5 separate regions of the Homo sapiens genome follow, and regions 1, 2, 3 and 5 are each reported to be linked to region 4. Evidence: microRNA targets listed by miRTarBase, many of them from high-throughput screens and not tested one by one. Region 4 holds a microRNA gene; each other region holds the end of a gene's coding sequence.
What was found. Region 4 holds the annotated microRNA hsa-miR-567 (AGUAUGUUCUUCCAGGACAGAAC, at 3,278-3,300, opposite strand). A microRNA usually pairs through its seed, bases 2 to 8, with sites in the 3' UTR of a target mRNA and lowers its output. Matches are read on the target gene's strand: a 7mer-m8 pairs with bases 2 to 8, a 7mer-A1 pairs with bases 2 to 7 and ends in A, and an 8mer does both.

Region 1 (5,090 bases), not on the chromosome of region 4:
TGCACGGGTTTGCATTCATCCTACCATTGACAGAGTCAACTCTCTTATAAAAATAATGTTAATGGAAAGTTCCCCTGATTGCACCTCTCACCACCACCACTAACTCCCAGATCCTGAGGATATAGGGGAATGCTTGCTTTTATAATGGTGTAATTAGAAGTGAATGTGCTTATTTGATACCTAGTGAAAGCTGAATCAATTTTAAAATGCTTTCCTTTTTCTCACCTTTCCCCACCCCCCATCCACGTACCCCCCCTTCCCTCTTGTTTTCCTAGACACAGTGCCAACATAAACCTACATCGTAAACTGTTGACCAAAGAACTCGATGACATGGGCCTGGACTCGTCGCAGCCCTCCCTTAGCAAGGACCTCCGCGATGAATTTTTGGTGAAGATATATGGTGCCCAGCACCCCATGGGGCTCGATGTCAGGGAAGACGCCTCCTCTCCCGCAGGGACTGAAGACTCCCACCTGAACGGGTATGGGAGAGGCATGGCAGAGGACTACATGGTCCTTGACTTGAGCACCACCTCCAGCCTCCAGTCCAGCAGCAGTATCCATTCCTCCAGAGAATCCGACGCAGGCAGCGATGAGGGGATTCTTCTCGATGACATTGACGGGGCGAGTGACAGTGGGGAGTCGGCACACAAGGCCGAGGCCCCTGCCCTCCCTGGCAGCCTAGGGGCTGAAGTTTCAGGATCTCTTATGTTCAGCAGCTTGTCTGGGAGCAATGGTGGGATCATGTGCAACATTTGCCACAAAATGTACAGCAACAAGGGGACCCTGAGAGTGCACTACAAAACTGTGCATTTGAGAGAAATGCACAAGTGCAAAGTCCCAGGTTGCAATATGATGTTTTCCTCTGTACGAAGCCGAAATCGGCACAGTCAGAACCCTAATCTCCACAAAAACATTCCCTTCACTTCAGTAGATTAGTCTCAGAATGGACACTACAAATGCCAGCTCTCACCAGATGGCCTACGTGTTTGAACTGCCATAGTCAGTGTGCGCTTATGTACTTGGGGTGTGTGTGTGTGTGTGTGTGTGTGTGCATTTATGTATGCTCTGTGGCTACATATACACACACGTATTTCCTTGAGATAAACAAGATAAACACTAGGTGCTTTTGAATTTTTTTCACTTCCCTTTATAGTTTTGGGAAAGGAGTGGGATCTTTGATTTCAGGGTGAAAACAGAGTACCCCTTTAAACACACACACACACACATGCACATACACACACACACACACACACACACACAGTGTGCAACTAGCCCCAGTTTTGACAGAATAATTCTTGGTCTTCCCCAAAGAGACAATTTGTTGTACCCATGACTGTTGCCTGCAAAAATAAAAGGGAAAAAAAAGAAAAAAGAAACAAAAAGGAACTTCTTATAGTTGTCTTTTGTGAACTTTAAGGTTTTGAAAGAATCTTCAATTAAAGCATGGCAGATTCACCTGTAAATATTTAGCCTTGAGGGGCCATTGATGTAAAACAATTGTATTGATGGTTGTTTAACTTTTTTGTTTAATTTTTACAGTTACATCCAGCTGTTAGATATGCAGGAAAAGATAGTTTGCTGGCTAGCTCTATTCATTTATGTTAGCATTAATGCACATTTTTAAAAAAAGAAAAAAACATGGTCTTGTTTTTACTACCTGTTAGATATAGTGCTAAAGAGGTGCTGGCATGCTTTACAGCACAGATCTGATTTTTTAAAATGTCCTGTACTAGTACATAAATCCCGTCATGCACTTTTTTTCATACACTACAAGGGGATGTGTAATAACCATGCTTCTTTTTTATCCTTAAACTATTGCCATACTTCAGTAAGTGTCTTTTTTAAAAAAAATTCACTTGTATAAAAATGGTCTGGTCAGTATAGGGCACAAATGCCAAACAAAGTATTAGTGTTAACACAAAACTGCCAACTTTGCACAAGTTTCCAGAAAAGAAAATACAATTAGTCACTCAACATAACCACAGGCCAATTTGTTGGCCACCAGAAAACCGCTTTTTAAAAAAACACTTGGTGATTCTTTCAAGTGCCGAATGTTATTAGAATCAACATTGCATCCTTCTTGCTTATACGTTAAGTTACATAAAAGGAAAACAAAATTATGTGGTGTGAAACAGCCAAGGCATTTATTCTTCAGAGGCAGGATAATATTTCAGGATACAAAAGCCCAAATTACCCGCTACGGAACAAAGATGAATACAGTAAAAGAGTCGAACACTCATTTCCAAGGCCCTAACCCTTATCCTTTAAAAAGAAATCCTCTGAACTGGGTCGGTCTGTTGTATGGCTGTCTAATTTGTTGCAAATTCTGCAGTCGTACTATAATTCAGGCCTGTTTGGTAGACAAAATCAAAAGGCATTTAACAGCAGCAGTACTTGGAAGCTTTGAAAACATGTGCTAAACTTGAATGGAGCAACACTCCTTTCTGAAAAGCCAGAAGAAGGGGGTTTTAAAGCAGGATCTCTCAATGTTCAGTGTTTTGTGTTTCCCCACACGATTTGTCAGAGAGAAATGAAAGCAAGCCTGAAACCAAGCAATTGAGAGTGAGAAAGAGGAGAGAGACTATTCTCCAAACCTTTTTTGTTTTGTTTTGTTTCCGATGTTTACACATGTTGCCTGAGCTGGTTAACCACATCGGCAGCCTCAGCTACCACAACATACTGACTAAATGATGATATTTACTCAAGTTCAGTCTGCAGCCAAAACCATTAGGGTGTGCATTGCAGACTGTTTTGTTGTCTTTTTTTTTTCTTTTTTCCTTTTTTTTTAAGTGGAGGGGAAAAGAAGAGATAAACAAGGAATATTTTGTCAAACAGTACACAATAATTTAAAGAGAATGTATTTCTTTTTTGCATTTAATGGCCTCAGACATTTCTTTCATCAGTCTAAAAGTTAGAAATATCCCTTTATTTTAACTTTTATGTCGTTTCCATTTTTCATGTTTTTGTAATTATTTTTTCTATGTTCACATCAGCATTCACTTCCGTTAAATTTGCCAAAGGAAACTGTTAATATGTTTCTGTTGTTATTATTCCTGTAGGATTTATTGTACCTCACAGTATTTATTGTTTCCCAAAATAAGCATCATTAGTTGGGGATTCAGTATTTTTGTTGTGAAAATTTCAGAAACAATAGATTCTTAAAGATAAGCTAGCTATGTCTAGGAGCTTTATCTTTTCACCTCCTTCAGAGGATGCTATGGGGTCCATTTTAATTCTTCATTTGTTCTACGGGGAGGAAAGACCAAAAGTATTTGCAGTACAAAAGAAACTATATCAAACACTATGTTAAATGACAAGTGTTTATGGTAAAAAGCTGAGGAATTAGTAATAATCGTTTTTGTTTTCTTGTACTTTGAATTCCCCAAAGTCTTAATTGCTTTATTTTGGTGTTGTGTTAAATTGAACAGACAGATGTTTTCCTTTGTTTTATACCATATAAGACTCTGTACAGTATGTTTGTGAAAGATTGAACTAGAATAATGAAAGTTTGTTTGCAAACATTTTGGTCCTCTCAGCGTTCTCTGTGTTGTGCTGTTGCCCCATTACCAAATGGTTAGATTCAAAAAGGGTGGGAAAAGATTTTTAATATCCCAACAAAACATTATAGAAACTCTGGCTTTTGCAGTGTGCATAGACTACATGTAGTTTTATGAAAATAAATACACATTTTTATTTCAGCAACTTTGAAAAGTTACACTCAGTTGAGTTACTAGAACTCATCTTGTACAACAGCAATGTTTAGTCTGTTTAATTTAATGTCAAATAAAAGGTCAGATAGCCCTCGTGAGTGAATTACATAGCTGTCGGCAGTCACATCAGCAAATGCACCAGGCTTAGAACAAATGTTTGTTACTTGCTGCAAACCAAGCTAATGTGTATAGCCAGTTAGAAAAAGTCCAGAAGTAATGAGATTCTAGAAGTAGAGTTTCCCTTGCTTGGAAACATGAATGTGTTCACCTGTGTTTTGTCAGAGAAGTGGCAATAAGTCCTGGACAGCTGACACTTTTTAAGTATCTCCCCTATTTGCTACTACTTTTGTGCCTCAAGTGCCCAGTCGTTACGGTGGCCTTCTAAATGAGTAAATAACATTTTCCAATATAAAGCCTATTTGCTTAAAAGGGACAGGGGAGTGGATGGATGTAGTACATGCAATGGAAAATCATAAAATGTACAATTCTTCTGTTTCCAAAGTATTGCTCGTTCTTGAGTGTGTGCCTGAGTGTCTTGTTTTGACTTAACTAGAATTCTAGTTAAGATGGTGATCCCATGGCTTATTTGCAAACAGGAAGGATAAAGAGATCAGCGTTTTAGTCATGGAGCTCATCTTTGCCCATTCCTACTCATTTGCTTTTTCATAGGAGTTTTTTGTTGTTAAACAGTTTCTCTCAAGCCACATGCATTCTATGCTGGCTGAAAATTAATAGTGATGTAGATGTTCATCCGACAAGCTTTTCCCCATGTGATTGGTTTTAGCCAGAGTTTATCACAGGTACAAAATTAGGCGGTATGACTGTGCATGTTCTCTAGCTGATGTTGAAACTTGTACTGTCTTGATCATTTAAAACTATGTTTTTGTAAATATCAGGTTTAGTCCGCTTTCGGGAATATCTGCATGCTATGGAAAGAGAGAAAAAAAGGATAGATAATGAGGAATTTGGTTTAAAAGTGTGATAAAAATCCTTGGCATTCTTTGTTCTGATATTAATTGTATTTAAATAAGTCAACCCAATGTAACTCATTCCAGATCTTAGTCCAGCTGCCCTGTTCAGCCTGATGCCTTTTAAAGGTTTAAAGGTGTTAATGTTTTCCTTTTCAACATGGCAAACATTTTTTAAAACCTTTTTGGCACAATGGTGCCACTGTCCTCATAGTGTTATTTCTTTGGTCATGAATTTTCAGGCCCTTCCAGTAAGAGGAGAAAGGCACTTAACTGGTTAACAGCCCCATTATTATACATTGCTCTAAGGAAAAAAAAAAAAAAAAAACTTTGAATATATCAAGAATGGGCTATTCCAGAGGCTTCTCCTCAGGAGAAACTATGCACTAGGTTCCCACCAAATACAATGTGA
Region 2 (5,089 bases), not on the chromosome of region 4:
ATGAGTAATATCATCCCAAGGCTTTAGAGGTGGCTGTGATAGTTTATATTATTTTGACCTTTATGTGGTCAGTTTTTTTTTTTAAGTGATTAAAATCTCAATTACAGTACCTTTAAATTAGTTCACAATTACATATACATGTTGGCAGCTAGAATCTTTCATTACTGTTTCTTTATGAGGTAAAAAAGTAATAAAGTCATAAATCTCATCATAACTGACAATATTGATGTCAAGCTCCTACAAATGATTAAAGAATGCGATTGACATTCTTGAAGAAATTGTTAAAGTTCATTGTCCTGCCTCTATTCAAGACTTTCAAAAATAGTATGTAAAGAAATTACATAATATTAGTTCAAAACAGTTATGGCTCAAAAGTTAACTTTAGTTTTTCAACTCTTTTCAGATCCAGGTTTCTGAGGGGAACAGCCTGTTTTATACATTTCTATGTCTTTCTCCATGCTCATATGAACCTATATACTAATAAATAGGAATTTTAATTTGTTTTGTTTTTTCTTTCACAAAAATTGGATCATGTAATACACATTATTCTGTACCTTGCTTTTTATACTTTCTGATGCTTCATATTAATTTCTCCAGATTTTTAGATAAAATTTTTTTTTTGAAATGAGGACTTGCTTTGTTGCCCAAGCTGGAGTGCAATGGTGCCATCATGGCTCACTGCAACCTGTGCCTCCTGGGCTCCAGCGATCCTCCCACCTCAGCCTCCCAAGTAGCTGGGAATACAGTTGCATGCCACTATGCCTGGCTAATTTTTGTGTTTTTTTGTAAAGACAGGTTTTTGCCATGTTGTCCAGGCTAGTCTGGAACTCCTGAGCTCAAGTGATCCACCTGCCTCGGCCTCCCAAAGCACCGGGGTTACAGGTATGAGCCACAATGCCCAGTCCCCTATTTTTTTTTTTTTAATAAGATTCCCATTCAAGGCCGGGCGCGGTGGCTCACGCTTGTAATCCCAGCACTTTCGGAGGCCGAGGCGAGCGGATCACGAGGTCAGGAGATCGAGACCATCCTGGCTAATACTGTGAAACCCCGTCTCTACTAAAAATACAAAAAATTAGCAGGGTGAGGTGGCGGGCGCCTGTAGTCCCAGCTACTCGGGAGGCTGAGGCAGGAGAATGGCGTGAACCCCGGGGGGCGGAGCCTGCAGTGAGCCGAAATCGCGCCACTGCTCTCCAGCCTGGGCGACAGCGAGACTCCGTCTCAAAAAAAAAAAAAAAAAAAATTCCCATTCAAAATAGGGAGTTATCATTCCGTTATCATTCCTTATTCTGTCAATCAATCAGAGAGTTTAAAAATTTTTGTTTCTTCTACAAGTAAGGCTGCTGCTAATAGTCTTGTTTCTATATTCTTATACACAGATAATTATAATTATGGAGTCAATTCCCAAGTGTGATATTGCTTGGGATATGCATGTTTAAAATTTTAATAAAAATCACAAATTGTTTGTCAGAAACCTATGACAATGCACATTTATTTCTACCAACAGCATAAGCTAATAGGTAAGCAGTAATATCTCATTTTGCTTTATTTTTTTTTTTGATCACACCAAGGCTCAGTGCCATTTAATATGCTATTTTGCCATTTTAGTTTCCTCTTCCACGAATTTCCATCATTGTTCATTTTCCTCTTTGGTTGTCTATTTTTAAATGAAAAAGCACCAGGATTTTAGAAATATCTTTTTTTTTGGTCAATCATATATGACCCAAATCAATATGACCAAAAAAATGAAAACATTTTTTCCTTATCTATATTTTTAGATTATTTGTTTATACCAGAATTTGAAATTTTTCTCCATGCTCAGAATTTCATTTTAAATATGTTCGTGATATTATTGAAGTCACCCCCCCCCACTTTATTTGTTTTCATATATCATGAGAAGTCAAAGAATCAAAGCAATATATTCTCACAGCCATGCACATTTTCTCCCTGTCTTCAGTCCTGTGTCTGTCACTCTCATAATCCTGTTTCAGCACCTATGAAGGCACTTCTGTGGAATACTTGATTACAGACCCAGCCAATACTTTCTACACTGGAATACATATATATATATATATATATATACAATCACTTAACTATATGAACCACTTGCCCCATAGTGTATATATATATATATATATATATATATATATATATATATATATATATACAATCACTTAACTATATGAACCACTTGCCCCATAGTAAATTTTCTTTTTTCATAGTGCATGATGCAGAAGGCTCCCACATGCCACTCCCATCCCATGGAGGACTTGCCACTCTATGACAACACTGGCAGAGCCCACCTAATGGCTCCCACTCTACCTGCTCCCCGAACCTGGGAGGAAGGCGGGTGGGAGCTGGATGTCAGCTTCTGTGTCACTAGCAGGATTTGATGACCCTGCTGTGAGATGGGCATGTAGAACTCCATTTTCTTTTTCTGGATCTCACACAATCAGCATCAGTGTAAAAGCCGCAGAGCACCCAGCAACAGGTAGTGTCCCATGATGATGTTATCTTACGGACATTCTGAAAACTTTCTTGACCCTGAGTAACTCCTTCAGCATTTTCTTTTCTTTTCTTTTGACAGAGTTTTGCTCTTGTCGCCTAGGCTGCTGTGCAGTGGCAAGATTTCTGCTCACTGCAACCTCCGCCTCCCAGGCTCCAGCGATTCTCTTGCCTCAGCCTCCTGAGTAGCTGGGATTACAGCCACCTGCCACCATGCCTGGCAAATTTTTGTATTTTTAGTAGAGATGGGGTTTCACCATGTTGACCAGGCTGGTCTCAAACTCCTGACCTCAGGTCATCCACCCGTCTTGACCTCCCAAAGTGCTGGGATTACAGGGATAAGCCACTGCGCCACCCCCCACCCCGCTTTAGCATTTTTGACAAAACAATCAGGTTACCCACATTTACATGGCCCTTCTTAATTGGCGAAGCTCTTTCATTAACATCATCCCATTTAATCTTGGTTAAGCTGTAATGGATTGGTTGAGTAATTTTTTCAAAACAAAGGATGAACAAGCTCAGAGAGCCTGAGAGACTTACTGAAGATCACACAGTAAATGATAAACTATTTTACTTTATGTCTAAGGTCTTTCATAATATGAAATAGAATGTAGATATTGCAACAATAGCATTTTTGGAGACAGCTACCTCCTTTACCAGGAATAATCTTTGCATGTCACATTTAGAGATAAAGCTCAAAATGCAAATCCTTCCCCTGAGAGTGGGAAAGCATTAACAAATGAGAGTGGGAAAAGCATTAACAAAGCATTAACACAGGTCTTTACATATTCAAAATATTAAACTAATGCTAGGATTATAGACTTGATTTTAAGACATGGTAGTTAATAGAAAAGTTCTAGATTGAAAACAATTTTGCAAAAATATACATTTGTATATGTGTATATATGTATGTGTATATATATATCTACTAGGAAAATATATTGCTTAAGGTGTTTGTGCCATTTCTTAGTTACCAATTTTACATTCTGCATTCACAGCATTTGCCATCCCATCTCTACACTTAAAGCCACCATATTACTTTTAATTACTTTATACACATTTTCAGTCATCATCTAAATAATCATTTATAGCCACAAACTAATACTGTTTAGTCAATGAAGCACTTTCATCAGCAAAAATTACAGATTTTTTGAACATGATTCTGGGAATAGTTCAGTTTTTACAATTAGTAATTGAGGCTTTGTCATATGAAGCAAGAAATCTGCTATTATTTTAAAAAATCAATTGTATATCGACCATAAAGAAATAGTATAAAAGTCATAAAAACACTGCCATTTACTGTAGTAAAATGTGGGGCATTTTATTTGAGTTCCTAAGAAATTTCCTGTATTTAGAACTCTTGGACCTTCACTACTTGTAAATGTGAGTCTATCCTTTACCTTACCCTAGCTTTTACCCCAGGGATTTGGTACATTTTTATTAGAAAAAGGAAAATGTCGACAGTGAAAACTGAGACAGAGTTAGAAGACTTCAATCACAATGGCCCAGCATGTGTATGTTCAGGGCAAGTAAAAGGGTCCCCTCCACTGGGATTCGATGACTAAAGATTATGAAGATACCAAAAATGCAAGAAGTCACAGGAATATTTTTCCTCAATGGCAAAGGTGACACAGTAGAATGGTTAAGAAGGAAGGTTTGTTGGCTTCAATTCCCCAGCTGATGTTCAACACTTTATTTACTTCTCACTTGAATTTTAAATTTTCCTGAAAAATAATTTCCCATCAATTTCCATTTCTTTGGAAAGCCCCCATGTGTAATTTATTGATAACATCTCTGAAGAGCTGAATTAATGATATTTCCTAGCTGTTGCTCCAGATCTTGTAGGGTAGAGGAGGCTGAAGACTGCTACAGGGGAAGGCATCTCTATTGCCTCAAAACGTCAGGACGGTACGGATACTGCAATAGGAAAGAAGAGACATTGTGTTAACATTTAGACAACCCACATGCTTGTTGTGAGAGTCCAAGGAGCATCTGAGGTGTCTTAGTGAAAATCTGTCTGTGATCCCAGCTACCCTATTTCCATCCCCATACATTTGGTTCAAGAAAAAGGAAGTTCATCTTTTTTGGTTTTCTTTTCTTTTCTTTTTTTCTCCAATCTTAATCTCACTCACAACATCCTGAGTATGCCTGTCATTTCAATTCTACATTAATTCTACATTAGCATCTTCAAAAAATCATTTTTGTGTGCCCACGTTCCTGGTATAATAAGGAATATAAAACAACAGTGGATAATAACTTGCAGTAAGTTCTTACTATTTGTCACATTCTTCGTGCATTTTCTTAAACTTCAACCTAAACATCAACACTAAGAGGTAGGTTCCCATATTATGTCCATTTTAGAGATTATAAAAACTGAGACTTAGAAAGATTTGTAACTTGCTCTGGTAGCACATCTAGTATGGAGTGTTGGGATTCAAACCCAAATACAAATTTGCAAAAATTATAAGATGATGGATAACTTGCCTGAAAGAATTGATAATTTAACAAAGTTAAGACTATGCTGGAAGTTTAAAAGACCTTTGATACGGATGTTTAAGGATTTGTAGAAGTAGAGAATAAAGTTGAT
Region 3 (5,107 bases), not on the chromosome of region 4:
GCCACTTGCACTTACATCCCATTGGCCAAAACTAAGTCACATGGCCATGCTCAGCAGCAAATCAGTCTGGGAAATGTAGTCCTACATTTGGGGAAATGCTGTTTGTGGGCAACTGGCAGTCTCTGCTTCAGGAGGGTTGAGAGTGTTAAAAGGGGGAACACTTACACTTTCTGCTTTGTATACTTCTTCATCCTTTCAAGATTTCCATAGTAAGCATGTAGTACCTATAAAAATGTTTTAAATAGATATCTTTGAAAAAAAAACAAAAAAGAAAAACACTTGAAGAAAATACTTCAAAATGTTAATAGAGGTGATTGTGTCTCGGTGAAGAGGTTAGATATCCATGCATCTTTATATTATTCTGTATTTCCAAATTTGACTACAATGAGAATGTGTTATTTTTATATTTAGGAAAAAAAACTCCCTTGCACCCTCTTCCCCCTGCAATAAGGAAAAGAAAGAGCCCAGTCCTGTTCATCTAATGTGGTTCAGAATGTCAGAATTATTTCCATTCCTCTTTTACAGAGCAACAGCCTTCGGCATTCTCAATGGATTATGCAAATTTGGCGCCATCCTGGGAAACACCATCTTTGCTTCTTTTGTTGGGATAACCAAAGTGGTCCCCATCCTTCTGGCTGCTGCTTCTCTGGTTGGGGGTGGCCTGATTGCCCTTCGACTGCCAGAGACTCGAGAACAGGTCCTGATGTGAACAACCTATGGGAAAAGGAAAGGTCGAGAGAATCTTGTCCAGGACACTGAAATGCATCCACACTTCCTGCCTATCACGGTCCGGAGGACACCTTGGATAGCACGGGAGGAGAAGTTGACTTTGTGACCCCTAGTTTAGGACCCACTTCAGCTGTCAATATGTTTGTAACTCAGGTGACTGATTTGGGGGTGCCCTGAGCCACCCTTAGAATCACAGAGCTGCGTGTTTAACTTCAAGTCTTCCCAGTCCAAGGCAGGGAGAGGATTCTCCAGTGAGTGCACACACTATGCGAGGAGCAAGCATTTCTCTAAGTCAAGTGCAAGGACTTAACTTGCGTTTGAAAAGGAATTAGAGGGTCAGAAACACCCAGGTTCCTCCAGAAAGCTCCTTGGAGCCCAACAACTTAACAAATCAACTTGGCTGGAAGTTAGAGTCATTATATGAAGATTGGGCTTGAAGTATATATTTTTGCATTTAAAAGTATCACCTATCATATTTTCCACTCGAAAATTGACATAGTAGCATTGAGGATACTCTGATCTAGAAAGCCAAGTATTTGAGCAACATCTATAGAGATCTACTTTTCTCCTATGTCTCCTAGGCTTTCCATGATAATTAGGTAATACATTTAAGAAGGATATTTATTTCTGTTTTGCTCTATTCAAAGAAACGGAATGGGATAGTTATTCTGTAAACTAAGTTTGTATATAACTTTATTTGGGTTTAATTTCCACAACTGGTATCTGCAAATATTGCCAGCATTTTAGCCATATTTTGGGAGAACTTGGTGTTTGAGGTCCCAGGAAATGAGGTCTGATCAAATGAAATGCAAGCACAATTTCTTACAGCCATTTAACTTTCTGTTGGGAGGATGAATTAACAAACTCACATTGTGCAGTCTGCTTAATCCAGGCACTTTTCTTTGTGCAGGTGTAGTGAGTAGTTACTTCTCTCCCTTACACAGATGACTTGTGAAACTCAAGCTCACCATCTTCAGTGCTGGCATTTTACTTTGCCACTACCCAAAAACAATGTGAGATGTGTTCAGTGGCCTCTGGTACTCTTTGCAGGCAAGAATCAAACAACATGGGGACTGAGGGAAGGATGGGGAAGTGTAGCCACAGTTCTTCCAAATGTAAATACTTTTTGTTTGTTCTAGTGGTAAAATGCAAATGCAATCCATATTTGTTAGGATGGTCAGGTCTCATGAGAAATCTATGCTATGTGTCCAGAGCTTTTGAAACAGAGTCCATTGGAGTGGGAGTTAGGGAGTGTAGTGGATGCCAAATATGTTTTTCTTCAGTGCTTAAGAGAACTGTTTCCTGAAGTCCAGCTTTGAACATAAACAGGGGTGTGGGTTGGGGGAGGAGCTTAGGACAAACCTCTCTGATGAAGGTCAGCAATAGACTGAAGTCTTGACTGCATGGAAGAGGAAAAACATCAGAACTGTCTGACAATGGAGGGGACAGTGAGCTACGCACAACTGCCAGCGGAGGTGAACTTGCACCTGCCCAGGCCGGATGAACATCAGCCTGCAAGAACTAGTTGTTTGAGTTGATTTGCAGTGCTCTCAATGGGCAAGTGCCACATTTTCCCTGGCAGAGATCTCCAAAAATTTAAAACAGAATAATAATGGCTATATCGAGTGTTTTCTCAGTATTGGAGAAATGCTTAGGTCCTATGATAGCTTCGGGACATCTTTCTGTAATTTTCCTCAATTAACGGGTTGGTAGGGGTAAATCTTATGACACCTTTCCACCGTCGATTTGAGATCAGTTTTAATGGTTAAAATGTTTACTCTCCTTCTGTCAACCCTCACCTTTTTATTTACACCCCTCCCTTTTTTTCTGTACAGGGAGAGAAGACATATTGACTCTGACTGGACACCCTGATTCCTCCAAATATATATACCACTGTGTATTAATCTTTCTCTCAGTGTTTTATAGGAGTACTAACATTTATTGCTCTGTCAATAATGAAAGGCTCGATGTAATATAGCTGTAATTTACTTTCCATATGAATACAGTGGCTAGGTTCATAAAAGAGAATTGTGTGAGTCTGGGATTACCACATCTAAAACATTATTCTTTAATGGGATAATACAATTCATTGAGCAGCTACCACTTAAAAAACTTGCAGGACAGTTAGAGCCTGCATTTCTAGTTAAGATGGATCTTGTAAATTTAAAATTGGATTAACATTGGAGTGCTGGGGTGGCTGCAATAATTTGGGGGCTAACTCCATTTGGTTTCCAAGATCTCACTTCTGCATTATCTTTATGGCTCTTTAAACCAGCCACCTAGCCAATCAAGGGCAATTCCCATCTCATCCATCACTCAGGTCTTTGTAAAGGGTGCAGCCAAGCTCTGCAGACTTTTGCAGGATTGTCTAGCCTGAGTACCGGGCTACTTCTTAAATGCCGTCACTCCTGCTGAGATAAATGCGTCTTTAAAAATAGTCTCTGTGGCAGGTCACTGGGGGACAATGTACAGCATTCTGGCCATCCACTTCTTTTTCACTTCATGTTCTACCCCAAGAGACTCCCGATGTCGGCTGTGGAGGGTTAAAGGGATGAGGCTTTCCTTTGTTTAGCAAATCTGTTCACAGTTCTTGATGATGTATTTTATGATGCCCAGCTTGGAAATAGTTGCTTTCCATAGTCTCAACTGTATTGTGTCATCTCCTGATGCTGATTTTTGATCTTTTGTTTTATTAAAAATAATTAGTGAAAGAGGTGTGCCTATCTGTGAAGTTTGTAGTACATCATCCTGAGGTCATGTAACAAGTAAACCCCAACCCAGCGTTCCCTCCTACGTTGTGTTAGTTCATTAAAACTAAATAATAAAAATAACTGTAAGAAAACCTTAAGGACTGGGGTTAGAGATTATTTTCAGGCACTAAGGTCTCTTCTGTATTCCAAAATTGATTGAATCAGCTGGGAGAAACATTGAGAATCGCTTCCTTCAACTTTTATTTTGCAACATGGGGACCTTGAGAGGTTAAACGATGTGGCCCAGATTACATGTAATGTGAGGAGTGGGCGAGAAGGCCTAAGGTGATGCTCTCATGACAGTTCTGGGGAAGCCTGCAGTTTGGGGAATGGGACAATGTGACAAATACTCGCCATTCCCTGAGACCATTCATTGACTATTCCCTTGATGGCTTTACTATAATGAGAGGAAGCATCAGTTTAAACATAAAAAGATTAGTATTTATCCATCCATTTATTCATTCAGCAAATCCTTATTGAGCCCTGACCATGGGCCAGTCTCTCTGCCAAGCCCTGGGGACACAGTGATGAAAAAACTGGCCACAGTTTCTGCTTCCTGCCTCATTCCACTTGCAGTGAGCGGATATTAAATTGGCCATAAACACCGAGTACGATGACCTTACAATCCGCAAACTGCACCTTTCATGTGTAAAAGGATTGCTACTACTTTACTTGTCAGCTGTGGATTTCCAAATGTGGTGGCTCCCTCTTATTTTTTTTTCTTTGAGGAGTGTACCAATTTTTTATCTTTATAAACCAGGTAAGGGAAATGATGCCCTTGCCCATTTTCTACAGACCTAATCGATTTTTACCTAATCAGTTTTACAGAAAGGGTTACATGGAAGAAGAGATAGGGGCCAGGAATGCAAGAGGGACATTGGTGAGTGGGGTAAGAATCCCCGTAGCCCTGGGAAAGGTGTCTCCACTTCCACATCTGGCTTTTCTAGGGGGCATCTGTGCTAACTGACCTGGGATTATGTTGGATGGCATATGACTGCAAATTCAAAGAAACCAATTTATAATAAGTTTATAGTAAGTTAAAGGTTTGTTTTACTCTCATGTGAAGGGAATCTGGAGGAAGGAAAGCCAGGGCTGGAGTGGCTGCCTTTGATCATGGGAGCACACTCCTTCTGCCCGATCATTGGGAGCACACTCCTTCTGCCTGATCGTTGGGAGCACACTCCTGCCTGATCATGGGCGCACGTTCCTTCTGCCTGATCGTTGGGAGCACACTCCTTCTGCCTGATCATGGGAGCACACTCCTTCTGCCTGATCATTGGGAGCACGCTCCTTCTGCCTGATCGTTGGGAGCACACTCTTTCTGCCTGATCGTTGGGAGCACACCCCTTCTGCCTGATCATTGGGAGCACACTCCTTCTGCCTGATCATGGGCACACGCTCCTTCTGCCCGATCATGGGCACACGCTCCTTCTGCCCGATCGTTGGGAGCACACTCCTTCTGCCCAATCATTGGGCTCACGCTCCTTCTGCCCGATCGCTGGGCTCACGCTCCTTCTGCCCGATCTTGGGCGCACGCTCCTTCTGCCCGATCGTTGGGCGCACGCTCCTTCTGCCCGATCGTTGGGCGCATGCTCCTTCTGCCCGATCGTTGGGAGCACGCTCATTCT
Region 4 (5,107 bases):
GGCTTTTTCCTCTTCTCTCTCACAAAAATCCTGGTTTTGCCCTTTTTCCCTACTCAGTCTACTAGCTGACTCCTTCCCATGTGAGAACAGTACCAAGTACCTCCTCTGTGTCCAAAATAACTCATGATGCTGACCTATTCTTCGACCTTTGTAAAACAGACTTCCCCCTCCTAGCCCAGGGCCCCACTCATCTAGGAGGTGAAGAAGACCAAAGATAGGGAAGGGTGAGGGATGATGGACTTAAAAAATTCCTTTATCATTATATTTTAAGTTTTTATTTTTATAAGGCATCCAAATATGCATGCAGTCAGGTCAAAATAATCGCCGTATTTCCAAATTAGAGAATGAGAAGCAAACACACACAAAACCCCTCAGGAATCTAAATTACAATCTAATTTTGGATTCTGCTTCTAAAGCGCACATATACAAACCCCAAATGGACCATAGGCTGGCCTCAGGGAAATACTCGGAATCCCTGAAATTGTCTGTACAATTTTGTGTTGTGGGGAGAAGTAGGTACATTTTTTTTTCCTGGGGAGAAGGTACACAGCTGTCTTCAAATTCTCTAAGGAGCACACAAACCAAACAATTTTAAGAATCTTTGCTCTTTGAAGACTAAGAACATTACCATTGTGGGAAACTAGTTGCCTGGGTAATCACAGGGCGGGGATGGTAATCCCCCAAGCCCACAGCTCATGAGCACGTAGAAACTGGCGTAAGAACTCATTCCATCCCTCTTGGTCCCTCCCAGGGCCCTGGGCCTCTCCCTGACACATTTTCCCTTTCTCTAGAGTTTGCCTCTGAGCTCATCCCCCATCTGCCTGCATGCCTGCGATGAGTCCCTCTTCTTCTTTCCTCACTTCCCAACTGCTTCTCTGTGCACCCTTCCCTTTGAGAGGGCAGTGACACTCACATTCTGAAAACATAAAATGGCTCAAATATTGCACATTCATGCTCTGGAAAGTGGGACATGGGGTCACAGAAAACCCCACATTTTCTCAGCATGTCCCGTCAGAAGAAATGTCTGAGAGAAAGAATGCAATTTCCAGAAGAGCAGAGACTTTGTTCCACTCACAGCTGCCTTCCCAGCACCTGCTGGAGCACCAAGCCCTGGGGAAACAGCTGAGTCTCTTTGGCCAAGCTCAGGGTCTTCTGGGAGCCCTCCTCAGGTCTCACAAGCAGCCTGCCCTTTATCCTGTACTATTTGAACCTCTCAGCCTTGGAAGCCTCTTAAACCTTTCCTCAGACCTCTGCCCATCTCCCTGGCCTCCATTTGGAAAGAGCCAGTAACAATTTTTGCAAGGGGCCTAAGAAAATCAAGACCAACCACACCACAGCAGCAGCCCCCACAGGCATCGCAGGCCTCTTCACATGGGAGGAGGCTGAAGGTTTCTGGGTTTTTTTTTCTTTTGAAATGGAGTTTCACTCTTGTCACCCAGGCTGGAGTGCAATGATGCGATCTCGGCTCACCGCAACCTCTGCCTCCCAGGTTCAAGTGATTCTCCTGCCTCAGTCTCCCGAGTAGCTGGGATTATAAGCACCTGCCACCATGCCCGGCTAATTTTTGTATTTTTAGTAGAGATGGGGTTTCACCATGTTGGCCAGGCTTGTCTCGAACTCCTGACCTCAGGTGATCCAACTGCCTCGGCCTCCCAAAGTGCTGGGATTACAAGCGTGAGCCACCGCGCCTGGCTTTTTTTTTTTTTTTTTTAATTCCTGTAACTGGGGCACAATCTCTTCACTCCACACACATATAGTGTCTGCCTGACCCACAGACACACTTTATTCAGGATGCTCTGTGAGGAAGATCTCCATTTATGAGACTTCCAGTGAGCTAAAATTTGGCCTTCTGAATGGCATTCTTAAGAACTGTTTTACATAACGTTCTGCCTTCTTAGGCCAACATTACTCTTGCCTCTCATCCTCAAGAAACAGTGTCATCATCATAATAAACACCTTGTCTTGTACTATGCACTAACACTTGTGCTTTTAACCCCCTGTTCCATGCTTCTGATTCTAGACCGTTAATGCACCTGCTGCCAACCACAACTACTTCTAATTTGCCTTTCATTCATTCAACTAGTATTTACTGAGAACCTACTCATGTGGAGAAAGTGATTCTGATGGACTGTGGATGAGAACATAAAATATTCAAGATTGTTGGCATTAGGGGCTAAATAAGAGCAAACAAGCCTCCGAGCGAGGTATCAGAAAGTGAGATCAGCAGCAAAGGCCAGAGCTTCACTACAAAGCAATGGAAGGATATTTTGAGGGCTTGAAGCCATTTGGCCTTCTGACCTTCCTTTCTGTCAGGTTTTGTTCTGAGTGTCAAAAGTTCTCAGATTCTGATAAATGGGGTGTTTGTTACATTTATTAAAGAACATATCTATTTCCTTGTTCTGTTCTTAATTTTAAAAGTTGACAAGTAAATTTGTCATAATTTTCTAAGGAAAGGAATAAACTTGTCTTTGTATACCCCTCTATTAATTTCTTAATGGTCTCAGTGGCCTTCAACAGAAAAAGAAATAGGTTCCCCATATTGAGATACTCTTTCAGCAATTTAGCTGTATCATTTATTTCCAATTCTTCAATTCTTACTTCTCTTGTGAAACCACAGTATCTCCATAAAGGTTGCTAATCATGTTGTAAAGTAGGATACAGGGCTTAGAATGTGGGTGAACTGCATGAGGAAACATGTAGCAATGTTCATCTTTATAGTTGAATTATCTTTTCCATAATTGCTCCCCAACTACACTGTCTAATTATGGAGGGCACGGACTGTGTAGCCTCCACAGAGAGGGGAACATCACCTCACAGCAACACCATCTGCTGAGGGGATGAGTGAATAAATGAATAGTCTGACACAGTACCAAGTCACCACAGTTGCCAAATCGAACCAAGCCAATTTGACCCCAATCTGGTTCACCTGTTTATTGTCACAACTCTGACTTCTTTACTTGCTCTACTTACCATAGAGCAAGAGGGATGTTGGATCAAGCCCCAGACTCTCACAACCAGGTATATTCTGATCACGGAAATCCTGTAGCAAAATGCCCAGCACCAACTCCTCACTCATCATATACTTCATAAAATTTTCATCATCTGATGGAACCCCAAATTGCAGGTCATACGTTACTGTGGCATTTTCACCACTGAAAGGCAATGGAAGACATTAAAACATAAACAGCATCATACTGCAACTCAAGAAATGAATTTAAGCAATAACTTTTTTTTTTTTTAGTTTTGCATGTTCTTCCAGTACAAAATAGCAAAGAATGTTCTGTCCTGGAAGAACATACTGTCCTATAAGAATCCTCTTCCATAGATTCATCACAAAAAGTTGAGGTGATCCTAACCTCCTCCTTCCACCTAGTACCTATCCTCTAGGAATCCACTGGGAGAGGCCATCAGAGGTAGAGGTAGAGGTGCCCATCTCCAGTCAAGATGCTGAGAAGATCCCAGGCTTGACCCACCATCTGTCCCAACCCCAGCCTTCATCCCTTAAGGCAAGCCAGGGAAGCCTCCCCTTTTCTCCACACACATTCCTTCTTCATGTTCTCAGCATTGCCCCCACAAAGGTGTGCCAGGGATATTTAGTTTAACCAATTCTTTATTTGACCTATGAAAATGTTTAAGGCACAGCCAAAGTTTCCTACCATTGGCTGGGTCCAGAACTTCTGAACGTTGACAGAGACCACCCTGTGTATCAGCAACAAATCAGGCTTCCCTGGTTTGTCCCCAAAGTGAGAAACTTTTCTGTCCCATTTCCAGAGGCCCCTAGGGCAAGATAACCAAGCCCTGTAACTCTCAGTAATGGGACCTAAGGAAAGGGAATTTTCATCTTCCTAGAACATTTTTTCCCATTTCCAAAATAAAAATAATCAAGGGCTACCCTCCATTAATTAGTGTCTAATGCTACTCTTTAAATGCTACTTCAACATTTAGTTTATTCATAGTTATCCTATTACTTTGGTTTAAGATGGGCCAGATTAAGAACCAGCAATAAAATAATGAGCAGGAGGCCACATCTGAGACTATCACCTTGGGGAAGTTTTGCAGATGCACCAGTCCCATTAGTGTGAATCAGGCCACTGCCCCTGCTAAGGATAGGCAAAGAGCTCCCTCTTCTGGCTACAGGTCACATAGGCCGATACTCTTCGATCTTACAAGGTGGCTGACAATTGAGCTTATAAACTCTACTACGGCTGGGAGATGTGCCAGATCCTGCAGATCAAATGAATAATGGAGAGTCAGGACTCTGAAGAAACTCATAGTTTCAAGGATGCCACTAAAGGAGGGCCAAAAAATGCACTTTCAAACTGCAATCCAGCTAACCTAGTTTGCAGGTGTCATAACTTGTTCCCTGAGCTCTGCCCTCTAATTATCGCTAATGATGATCAACACCTACACAGCCAGCCACCCTGCATTCCCAGGGGCAAGGACTTGGGCTGGCTAATGAAGAGGGCCAGAGTCTGACTTTCAGAAGACCAGGTCAGAAGCTGAATGGGAAAATCAGGCCACCTAGCCTGGCCTGGCCAGCCCATCCTAATCCCCCATGGCAGGTCACAGGGTAAATTTACATGAGGCTGAATTTTGAGAAAAGAGCAACTTTCAGGGCCTTTCGCCCAGCTGCCCACCACTGGAGTGAGTCTAGCAGCTAATAAACCAAAGGGCATTTTTCCAGGTTCTAGCTGGGCCAGTCCAGGGCTGAGGTCACAATGCCCCTGTAGACACAAATGCATGTGCCAGGGATTTAGCCGCCTCCCACCCATGTGCAGCAGCACCCTTTGGGAAGCAATGGCTTTTCTTCCTCAATTCAATACTTTAGGACCTCTGCCTGGACTTCTTGAAATAAAGTGCAGAGATGTCACCGTAAGTACCATGTACACTGGGTCTGTTTTGTTTTGTCTTGTTTGAGTCTCTCTGTGTCACAGGCTGGAGTGCAATGGTGCGATCTCAGCTCACTGCAACCTGCGACTCCCTGGTTCACACAATTCTCCCGCTTCAGCCTCCCAAGTAGCTGGGTTTACAGGCACGCGCCACCACGTCCAGCTAATTTTTGTATTTTTAGTAGACATGGGGTTTCACCATGTTGGCCAGGATGGTC
Region 5 (5,107 bases), not on the chromosome of region 4:
TAATAATTTTGAGAGAAAAGAGCCAATAGTGTTTTGAGGGAAAGCATCAACCAACAGATAATTATGTTTAAGTAATTTTTTACACACATACATTACAAAGTATAAAGACTAATTAAATTAAATATTCCTCTCAAATTGAAGCCTTGTAATGCAACTGCAAATGCATTTACAGTCCAAATTTATGTAGCAGATACTGGTATCTTTCTCTAGAATTAGGTCTCACTTTTAAATTTAATATTTTAGCACAAGAAATGTTGCCTTAGGACTAATTGTGGGTGCCCTGCTGTCCCGCATCATTTTTTTCTCAGAGATCCCAAAAGAGCCTTTGAGAGAGAGAGAGAGAGAGGGAGAGAGAGAAGAAAAAGAAAGAAAAGAAAGAAAGAAGAAAGGGAGAGAAAGAAAGAGAAAAGAAAGAGAGAGAGATGAAATAAAGAAAGAAAGAAAGAAAAGAAAGAAAGAGAAAGAAAGAAACTAAATTGGTTTTGACTTTTGAAGTCAAAAGCCACTGTGTATAATTATGAGAATGTCACAGTTAAGAGTTTATGTAGAATGTGATTTTTTTTTGTACCAGTTGGGAATTCTTTGGTGTCAGGTTATTTTTGTTTTATGAACTTATTTTTCTAGCTTTCACTTCCTGAATCACTGAATATAAACTAAAATGAATGAACTGAATGCTAATTATGTTTCTTGCTGGTTAAATATTTAATCCCCAATTTTCTATTTTCAATAAACTTTTTTCCTTTTCTTTCATTTTTAAAATTTTCTTTCTGTGTTTTTTCTTTCATTTTTAATTATTTCTACCTTTTTCTGTTCTTTTATTTTAGGATCTGGGGATACCGAAAGTGGGTCATGTGAAGCGAATTCTCCAGGGAATTAAAGAGCTTGGAAGGAGCACTCCACAGTCGGAGGTGTAATCATATTGGTGCTATTTCTTGGAAGAGAAGTTATTGCCACTTAATACAAAGTCCTTGGAAGCAAGTGGCTGTTCTTGTAGTTTTCTGCATAGATAAGTAAGCACCACTGAAGCACCTCTGTGGCTTGATATTTTGCTGTGGGTGAAATTTTGATTTGAGGTATTAGAAAATATTTTTGTGCCGAACAATACATTCCACAAAGCCATTTTCTTTTTGTGCAAACCTGACATGTTCAAATATATTCACAATGGTAATAAGGTAGGAGGAATCTGAGACGATTGCATTGTCTAAACAGTGGAATTGCAAAATGTTTACTTTCCATAGATCTGGTCTGATGGAATGTTCCTACTGTGCAACTGCATAACAATATGTGGTTAAAACTTCCTAGGTTTCATTACGGGGGGGCATTGGCCATTTTCTTAAAATCATAGGTTAGGAGACTAAAATATAAATTAAGTTGTGATTTGAATGTAGATTGGTATCACCTCCAACTCCTAGTGCTTAGTGGTCAAATATGTTGAAAACCTTTCCAATACTATGAATGAATGCAAATCTTAATGCACGATGTTCCTGCCTGAAATGTCTTTCTTTTTCTTGCATGTCACATCTAATACTGTAACACTTTAAATAGCTTTCATGTCAGTTTTAATGTTAATGGGATTTAATTTATTACTAAAGTACATTTTTGTTGGTTAAGGGCACTGCACTTTTCTGTTTTTTAATGTGGGATTTTGCGTAAATATTCTGTACCTAAGACTTTGTGAAAGTGTGTCTGTGCCATAATCAACAAATGATATACATCACATGCAAGTCAATTTTATTTCAATCTATCATAAGCAGTAGGCGTGCACGTTAAGAAAATTCTCTGGATATTTTCATAAAATTACATGCTCCCTTACCTGACAAAACTTGTTACAGCTTTCCAAACCAAAATTTCCACATTTTGTTTCTAATTTTTAATTTCAATTTAATAATTATTTAATATTCTATTTGAATTTATAATATAGTAAAGTGTTGATATCCAGGAATTCCCTGAGGTGTCAACTGAGATTTATATACTGACAGATAACCCAGACTCACCCGCTCTCTACAGTGACTTCTGACACGATCTTCCAAACAGAAGGGATTTAAATTTTTTCTTAAGGGCTTTATGTTGTTATTATTATTATCTCACTTAATTCTTAATTCTTATCAGGTGGATATTATTTTCCTTTTTCTAAACCACTGTACTTCAGTGTAGCTTATTATTAGAAGTCAACATTACAATGATCAAATCTTTGAAAGCCAAAGGCATACGTATCAAAAAGTCACAAAAATATCCTTAAATAAGCTTTCTTTAGCCATTATATACCAAAACATTAATTATAATATTTTAAAATTTGTATATAAGAGAAATAAACAGGGTACTGACTCAGTGGTGACAATTTTTATGAAGTAGCCTGCTAGGTGCTTAATAGATATATATACACACAGATATATACATATACACATATATGTGTATATATACATACATACACATATACATTTATATGTGTATATATATACCTACATACATATAACCTTGTGATATGGCATCATTGATATTTTCTAGACAATTATTTCCCCAGTGTTTAAAGAGAAATACTAATAGGCGAGCATTTAAAATGAACTATTGTCAGGCATATTATTTAATTACATCAAAGGAGTTTAACTGTTTGACACTTTACTCTTGTTTATAACTTGGGTATTTAACTACTAGTAAAAATCACAAAATTTTAATGTCTTTAAAATAAATGACCCTGAGGGATTCCTGACCAAGTATGTCTGACTATATATTTTACCTAAGTTGTAAATAAATGGAAATTTTCCAAAGACAGTTATATCAAGTAGTTTAAAAAGTCATGAGGCAGGGTGCTGTGGCTCACGCCTGTAATCCCAGCACTTCGGGAGGTTTAGGTGGGTAGATCACCGGAGGTCAGGAGTTCGAGACCAGCCTGACCAGTGTATGAAACCCCATCTCTACTAAAAATACAAAAATTAGCCGGGTGTGGTGGCACGCACCTGTAATCCCAGCTACTCGGGAGGCTGAGGCAGGAGAATTGCTTGAACCCAGGAGATGGAGGTTGCAGTGACTGAGATCACACCACTGCACTCTACTAGCCTGGGTGACAGAGCAAGACTCCCATCTCAATCTCAAAAAAAAATAGTCATGAATTATGCAATTATTCTAATTGTATCTGCACTTACGAAGTCAGAGGTCTCCTTTTTCAGTCCCTCTGATAGTCCCACCTAAGTGCTGTCCTGCTCCTGTGAACACTTTCCTGTGCAACCAAACAGGAGGTGCCAGGTTCCCAGAACTCTCTAACATTACAGATCTCTGTCCATCTTTACTAAAAAAAGGAAATGTGAGGGAAAGAAGGGGAAGAACTCTAGCATAAATAATGTATTAATATAAATATCTATATTGATTTTCACCCCCCATTCCCCTTTGCTAATAGAAAAGAGTCTAGCTATGATGTGTCCCAAATTTAAGAGTGTGATGTGAAGGACTGAATTTTTGTTTGTTCGTTTGGTGAGCTTTTCACTCGTAGGTGACATCTTTTGTATATGCTGTAAAGTCTCAGTTAATGGAATCCTACAGTGCATTTCTGGCTAGCTCGGTTGGTAGAGCGTGAGTCTCTTAATGGAATCCTTAATTAGCTAGAATTTTCCTGCAAATGGCTTTGGATGAGGGAAATTCTATAAAATGACAATTTGGATATACTTTTTGTTAAATGAGAGCAATTTTCTCTGTATGCTTTGTCTATGCATGGCTGTGCAGGGCCCAAATGACTTCACTGACACCTGTTTCCAGGAGGGGGTCTTCAGAGCCTCCTTAGGCTCTTGTCAGTATCATAAATAATTCCTCTTCTTATAGCGGATGGGGTTACCAAAAAAAATAAAAAGTAGGGAAGAGCTTCTCCATGGGATCAGATCACAGCTTTGGGGAGTGGGATGGGGCCTCTATGCTTTGATCTATGCATGAGCTGGGGTGAGAAGTTCCCACCTGCACCTGACTGCAATGACTGTAATGGCTGGAATTGTCACCTCTTCTCCCTGATAGGCTCTTCCTCACCTGGAGGATCGGGGCTGGTGGGAGGGCAGGGAAGGGGAGGCCATCAGCCAGAATGTATTTTCTTTCAGTTCCATTTCCTGAGGAAGAACTTGCTTTTAAAGGAGGAAAGGGACAGAATCAGACCTAAATAAAATTCCTGAGTATGCAATATTTCTCTTTAGTGTCTCTTCACCTCCCTTTCTGAGTTTCTTTCCTACATCCTGGCTCTTCATTTTCCCAATGCCCAATATAATCATGGTTGCTGAAATTCTCACTGCCTTCTACTTTCCTTTCCCCATCAATTAACCCACTACAAAATGACCCCTTTCATTTCTCGCTTAAGCATACATGGTGGGTCATTTAACTAAGTGTTAGGAAGAAAACAATTTAAAGACACTAATTTTACAGTTTGCGTTCTGTAAAAGGATACTTGCTGGATAATCTAAGTGAATTGATGGATTAGGTCATTTGGGATTGTGATATATATTGTTCTTGCTGACAAGAAATGACCCATGAATGTCTAGATCTATCCTGTCCAATATTGTAGCTACATGTGGCTATCTAAATTTAAATGTAATTTAATTAAGCCAGGCATAATGGCACAAGCCTGTAATTCCGGTGACTCAGGAGGCTTAGGAGGGAAGATGGCTTCAGGCCAGGAGTTTGAGACCAGCCTCGGCAACATAGTGAGACCCTGTCTCTGAAAAAAAATTTTTTTAACTAGCTAGGCATGGTGGCATGCGCCTGTAGTCCCAGCTATTCTGAAGGCTGAGGTGGGAGGATTGCTTGAGACCAGGAGTTCAAGGCTGCAGTGAGCCATGATCATGCTACTGCCCTCCAGCCTGGGCAGCAGAGCAAGACCCCTACTCTTTAAAAAAATTAATTTAATTAGAAACTCCATTTCTCAGTTGCACTAACTACATTTCAAGTGTTCAGTAACCATAGTGGACAGTGCAGATGTAGAAAATTTCCATCACTGCAAAAATTCTATTGGACAGCACTGGTGCAGATCATTGCTACTCAAAATGTGATCCATGGGCCAGCAGCATCAATATTACCTGGGAGCTTACAGAAATGCAGAATTTCAGGCCCACTGCAGATCTACCGAATCAAAATCTTC

Region 1: the mRNA of BNC2 is a reported target of hsa-miR-567. Seed matches in the 3' UTR shown: 7mer-A1 at 1,230-1,236 and 7mer-m8 at 2,674-2,680.
Region 2: the mRNA of ADH1B is a reported target of hsa-miR-567. Seed matches in the 3' UTR shown: 8mer at 4,016-4,023 and 7mer-A1 at 3,409-3,415.
Region 3: miRTarBase lists SV2B as a target of hsa-miR-567. The part of its 3' UTR that is shown has no 7-base or 8-base seed match.
Region 5: miRTarBase lists DGKH as a target of hsa-miR-567. Seed matches in the 3' UTR shown: 7mer-A1 at 2,420-2,426, 7mer-A1 at 2,424-2,430 and 7mer-A1 at 2,462-2,468.

Annotation. Positions count from the first base shown.
Region 1 is chr9:16,414,835-16,419,924 of GRCh38, reverse strand. BNC2 (basonuclin zinc finger protein 2) reads left to right here. Exons shown (of 7, transcript NM_017637.6): 7 at 276-5,090. The coding sequence ends at 936. LOC124902125 (a long non-coding RNA gene) reads right to left here. Exons shown (of 3, transcript XR_007061425.1): 3 at 4,549-4,636. Among named protein-coding and RNA genes, the nearest start is that of LINC03041, 140 kb to the right of the region's middle.
Region 2 is chr4:99,303,446-99,308,534 of GRCh38, forward strand. It overlaps ADH1B (alcohol dehydrogenase 1B (class I), beta polypeptide), which reads right to left. Exons shown (of 9, transcript NM_000668.6): 9 at 1,526-4,419. The coding sequence ends at 4,395. Among named protein-coding and RNA genes, the nearest start is that of ADH1A, 15 kb to the left of the region's middle.
Region 3 is chr15:91,291,844-91,296,950 of GRCh38, forward strand. It overlaps SV2B (synaptic vesicle glycoprotein 2B), which reads left to right. Exons shown (of 13, transcript NM_001323032.3): 13 at 526-5,107. The coding sequence ends at 709. Among named protein-coding and RNA genes, the nearest start is that of CRAT37, 170 kb to the right of the region's middle. RefSeq lists an enhancer at 1-170.
Region 4 is chr3:112,111,009-112,116,115 of GRCh38, reverse strand. MIR567 (microRNA 567) reads right to left here and starts at 3,315; the gene lies at 3,218-3,315. C3orf52 (chromosome 3 open reading frame 52) reads right to left here. Exons shown (of 6, transcript NM_024616.3): 5 at 2,971-3,152. RefSeq lists enhancers at 541-630, 861-910, 921-1,000, 1,021-1,280.
Region 5 is chr13:42,228,275-42,233,381 of GRCh38, forward strand. It overlaps DGKH (diacylglycerol kinase eta), which reads left to right. Exons shown (of 30, transcript NM_178009.5): 30 at 825-5,107. The coding sequence ends at 914. Among named protein-coding and RNA genes, the nearest start is that of AKAP11, 41 kb to the right of the region's middle.